2 separate regions of the Homo sapiens genome follow, and region 1 is linked to region 2. The links come from fine-mapping of genetic effects on gene expression. Tissue or cell type: cerebellum. Region 2 holds a variant in brackets; the other region holds the start of a gene. All regions are shown on one strand. Distances are between the middles of the regions.

Evidence for each region. PIP is the estimated chance that this variant, and not a neighbour inherited with it, causes the effect.
Region 1: BEND7 starts here. The variant in region 2 is fine-mapped to the expression of BEND7 in cerebellum (GTEx, PIP above 0.99). The same link has a PIP of 0.9 or more in cerebellar hemisphere and esophagus mucosa.

What each region holds. Positions count from the first base shown.
Region 1 is chr10:13,527,713-13,530,471 of GRCh38, forward strand. It overlaps BEND7 (BEN domain containing 7), which reads right to left and starts at 1,302. Exons shown (of 9, transcript NM_001369863.1): 1 at 761-1,302. The coding sequence starts at 821. It overlaps BEND7-DT (BEND7 divergent transcript), which reads left to right and starts at 892. Exons shown (of 2, transcript XR_930674.3): 1 at 892-940; 2 at 2,308-2,552.
Region 2 is chr10:13,554,726-13,557,484 of GRCh38, forward strand. It overlaps LOC105376422 (a long non-coding RNA gene), which reads left to right. Exons shown (of 3, transcript XR_930675.1): 3 at 2,374-2,445. Among named protein-coding and RNA genes, the nearest start is that of BEND7, 27 kb to the left of the region's middle. The variant G/C (reference allele first, on the strand shown) is at 1,417.

The DNA.
Region 1 (2,759 bases), 27 kb before region 2:
GTTATCATTTTTTTAAAAAAAAAAGTCAAATCAGGAAGATAAAGACTCTTAACAAGTAACTGAACACAGACAAGACTGTATTCCACTTTCCCCTCCCTGACAAAATACAAACCCTAGAGTGTGGTGTACACCTGTTAATTCGTCAGAAACTAGATGGATTTCTTTTCTTTCTTTTCTTTTTTCTTTTTTTTAAAGGATGCTTATCTGACTGCTATATGATCTAGTCTAAAACACCTTTCCAACCCAAATCAGCTAGCTAGAGATGTTGGATGTCAACAATTCCGCCTTGGGCTTGGACACGGCGTGAGCTTCTTTCTCCTTCTTAAAAAGAACAACAACGGTCATCCTTTTTCCTCCTTCTCTTGGCGGGGGGAAGGGGGAAGACCCCAGAAAACAAAAACAGCAAATCTCAGGTCCGAGGGTCCACGCTCGGCCTGATGGCCAGGCAGGTCCGCGGCCGCCCCAGCCCTGCCCCGGAGGCGCCCCGAGGAGGGCTCGGGCCCCCCGGTGTCATTGTTTGCTAATTTCCTGAGCTGCCCTCCGACTTGTTTACGTTAAATAACATCCCTGCTCCCCCCGCACAACTTTCCCCGCCGCCCGGCGTGTGCGGCCGCGGCCCTGCCTGCCAGCCCGGCGGAGGCACCGGGGGACCGGGAAGGACCGGGGGCTCCGGGAGGGCGCGCCCCCCAGCGTGGACCCCCGCGGGCGGCCGAGGGCGCGGCGCCCGCTGCCTGCCCCCGCCGCCCCGGCGGCCGCTTACCTCGGCTCACCAGTTTGAAGCTCTGGGATTTCCTGCTTCTTTTCCTCTCGGAGAACTCCATGGTGCGGGGAAGGCGGCGGCGGGGGCTGAGGAGGCGGCGGCAGCGGCGGCAGCGGCAGCGGCGGCAGCGGCAGCGGCGGCGCGGGCTCGTGTCACCGCGGCGGAGCCGCCGGGACCAAGGTCCGCGCCTGGAGTCGGCGAGGGGAGGCCGCGGGACGGGAGGAACCACCGCGAGCCGGCTCGGGGCTGCAGGCGCGGGGCCCGGCGGCGTGGGCTCCCGGGCGAAGTTGCCCCCGCGCGGCGCCGCCTCCCGGTGCCCTAGGCGCCCCCGCGGCCCCCGCTCATGCCGGCCCGCGGGTTCCAGACGCCGCCCGCCGCAGCCCAACTTTCCGTTGGGAGCGGGCCGGGCCGGGGCGCGGCGGCGGCGGCGGAGGCGGGGGGCGGCTCGGGGCGGCCGGCCCGCCTGGGCTCAGCCTGCGGTCGCGGCGGCGGCGGCGGCGGCCCCGAAGACGCGGCGGGCGGGCTGCGGGGAGGGCGGCGGCGGGTGCAGAGCCGGCCGGGGCGCTGACCGCCCCCGCGGGAGGAGGGGCGCCGGCGGAGGGGGCGGTGCCGCTGGGACCCCAGGGCCACCTGCTGGCGGAGCCCGGCCGCCGCCATCCCCGGGGGCCGCCGCCGGCCTGGCCGCGCGGCGCCCCGAGGAGGCGCGGAGGCCGCGGCGCAGCGCCCTGGCCCGGGCCCGGCCGGCCTGCCTGCCCCCGGGGACGACGCCGCCGCCCGGGCCTCCGCTCGCAGACCCCGCTCGCTGGCCTCCCTCCGCCGCTTGCTGGGCCGAGCTAACTCCGTGCACCTCGCCGTGGGGGCGCGGACCGCCCCGACAACCACCTCCCCGCCCTCACATCCCGGGCGCCCCGGGGCCCGACGCGCTGATTTTAAGCAAGTTTTAGGGGGAAAAAACTTACCCATTTGCGCTCTCTCTAGAAGGACAGAGAGGAGGTTTTAGAATATTGTGGAGAAGAATATAGTAGAGAGCTCCCATTCCCTAACCCAGGCTGGGCGGATTGTGGAAAGAGCCGAGTCACATTCAAGGAGAGCACTTGGAATGGGGGGCTTGGTGGCCCTGGGGACTCTCAGGAGGCCATGGTCAAGGCAGGTGCAGGGCACTATGCTTCTCCACGTCATATGTCGGAATCATGGACCCAAACACAAAGCGCTTAGTAGTTATGTGTAATATTCTTTTCGGGGGATCAGAGAGCGCACTTCAGGCACCATTTCTTTCTCACATCTTTCGAGTGGGCCAGGAAAAGAATTTCACACTACCTGGGAATGGTAGGACAGGAACATGACGGGACATGCGTGAAAGTATCTGCCAAACCCAACCAGGAAGAGGGTAAAGAGTCGGGGGATGGGGGGGCTACCTCTCCGGCACGGGACAAAGGCCAGTGGCCCCAAAAGAGTAGAGAGGAAAAAGGGGAGGTTGACAAATGTGATGAGTGTCACGTGGGTCTCACCCAAATGAGGCAGCCGCTGAGGAACCGCTCTTATTTCAGGGACACAGAGTAGGACAACTGCCGAGGAAGGGGGACATTGAGGCAGCTTGCAGAAACACACATGGAGAAACAGAACCAAAGAGCAGGGTAACCAGCAAACCAGGCAGTGGAGGCAGGGATGGGTACCCATCCCGAGATCTTGGGTGATACCAAAGGCGGCACATCCGGAAGGCTGGTTATACCTAGCGTGGAGGGGAGAGGGAGAACTGTTTCTTCCGTTCAATAAAGCAAACCCTTCAACAAGAGGTTCTTAACCTTTTTTAGTCACTGTTTCCTTTGAGATTGTGTTCAAAGCTCAAGGGCCCTTTTTCCCAGAAAATATGTATGGGACATATAAAATTTAGTATAGATTTATTGGAGTTCTTAGACGCGCTTTGCTGCTCTCAGAAAATTAGTGGTAACAGTGATTAAAGCAACTACCCTATTTGGGTTTCTTCCTTCCCTGCCACCCC
Region 2 (2,759 bases):
GTCACGGGATTGCTTGAACCCAGGAATTTGAGACCTGCCTGGGCCACATCGTGAAACCCTATCTCTACAAAAAAATAAAAAATTAGCCAGCTCTGATGGTGTGCACCTGGAGTCTCAGCTACTAGGGAGACTGAGGTGGGAGGATCGCCGAGCCTGGGAGGTTGAGGCTGCAGTGAGCCATTATCATGTCACTGCACTCCAGCCTGTGCAACAGAGCAAGACCCTGCCTAAATAAATAAAAAAGAATATTAATGATAGTAGAGACCAGCTTTCTCATTGTCAGAGAAGGGAATTACAAATATGGAAAGCAGAAAGCAAGAGTGAACCAATAGCTGGAATTGGTGTGAATTCATGGCTTTATAGAAAGATATATACATACGCATACATGTAATTTCTAGTTCTGCCCACTGACAAGACTTGAACATGTCAACACCTCAATATTATTGAGCACACCTAAAGACCCAATCTTGATTTCTGAAAACCATTCTCCACCAAAAACAAACAAACAAAAATATCCGAGGCTTTTTGATGAAATTAATAATTTGCAAACCGGGACAGGGGATGCACAAAATGAGCCTGGAAAGTTTTGTGCAAAAAAATAAGGAAGTCCCCAAAATAATGATGGGGCTCTGTTAAAGGGCATAGAATCCAGTTGGAATGGGCTCCCCGCTGGTCAAATCTGAGACAAACAACATCAAAATTAGTAGTAATCATAACAAATTATAGCCAAGCACGGTGGCTCATGCCTGTAATCCCAGCACTTTGAGAGGCCAAGGCAGGCAGATCATTTGAGGCCAGGAGGTCGAGATCAGCTTGGCCAATATGGTGAAACCCTGTCTCTACCAAAAATACAAAAATTAGCCACTTGTGGTGGCGTGTGCCTGTAGTCCCAGCTACTCAGGAGACTGAGGCAGGAGAATCGCTTCAACCCGGGAGGCGGAGATTGCAGTGAGCTGAGATTGCACCACTGCACTCCAACCTGGGTGACACAGAGCGAGACTCCTTCTCAAAGAAAAAAAAAAAAAAAGTAATCGTAACAAATTATAACTCATCAAATAAAACAGGAACCCATGAGTCCACATTTGGTATAAAGAAATGTATACCAATGTGAATAAATTGTAAGTTAGATGAGGAACAGATATTTACATAGGTTTACCTTACCTCTTCAAAAACTAATATTAGTATTAATTCCAGAGGGAAAAACAGTCACTTACAGTGGAGAATCATGGCCAACACCTTCTTAATCAAATGACCAAACATAATACTAACATAGAACAGGCAAGCCCCAACATTGAGGCTTAGCCCAGAAGGGTTCTTGGCTTTGCCTGGGAAAGAATTCAAGGGTTAGCAGGTGGTGTTAAACAGCAACTTGGCAGCATACAGCAGCAGGAAAGGTGCAGCTCCTTGTGAAGCAGG[G/C]TTACCCCAAAGGCAGTGTGCCAAGAGAAGCAGCTTGGAGGTGGTTCTGCACTAATATTTATGCCTGTTTTAACTATACACAAATTAAGGGGCAGTTTATGCAGAAATGTCTAGGATGAGGGTGGTAACTTCCAGGTCATCAGGCCGTTGCCATGGAAAGGCCTTGTAATGTCCAGGTGTTGCCATGGCAATGGTAAACTGATATGGCATACGGATGGGTGTATCTTATGGAAAGCTGCTTCCCCTGGGAACCTGTTTTTGCTAGTCCTCAATTTGGTCCTGAATCTGAGCCCTGCCTCTGGAGTCAAGTTTTGCCTCCTACCTCAATATCACTGGTAATGGGACAAATAGACATCAGAATCCCCTGATGGAATGCCATGGGAACACAGCATCACTTCCATGATTCACAACCCAAATCTAGTCATGAGAAAACACTGGAAAAACCAAAATGGTGGGATATTCCTCAAAATAACTGTTCTATAGTCATCAGACTTGTCAAGTTCATGAAAATCGAGGAAAGAGTCAAGAACGATTTCAGATGGAAGGAGAGTAAAGAGATATGACAAATAAATGCAACGTATAATTGTGGACTAGCTCCTCTTGTATTAAAGAGATTATTGGGACAACTAGAAATTTAAATAGGGTAAAAGGATTAAGTAGTAGTAACGTATTAATGTCAACTTCCTGATTTTGATGGCAGTGTTTTGACTGTGCAGGAGAATATCCATCTGCAGGAAATATACACAAAAGAATTTGCTAACAAAGCTGTAGGTTTTTGGCTTTCTCCTGTCTGCTAAGTAAGTTACCACTCCATCATCTGTTTTCCACTTTTCTAAATTTTATTTTATTGATTTATTTTATTTTGTTAATAATCTTTATCTGTTATTTCCCCCCCATTCATTCTTTTTGTGTTTATGTGTTTTTTAATTACTCAATATCATTTTTGTTTGGTTTCAGGAGTGAGCAAATAAAAATGCTTCTGTTTAATCTACCATGAAAAACTGGAAGTCTCTCTGAGCTGTCATAAATCACATCACTGTGTGAGTCATAGAAGTAGAAAGTGAAAGGGAAGGTATCATAACTGGAAAAAAAAGCAGCAGTTGGAGAGAGGGGACAAATACAAAAGATATTTATATATCTTTATTTATTTATCGAGATGGAGTTTCGTTCTTTTTTTTTTTTTTTTTTTTTGAGACGGAGTCTTGCTCTGTCACCCAGGCTGGAGTGAAGCGGCGCGATCTCGGCTCACCACAACCTCCGCCTCCTGGGTTCATGCCATTTTCCTGCCTCAGCCTCCCAAGTAGCTGGGACTACAAGTGCCCGCCACCACACCCGGCTAATTT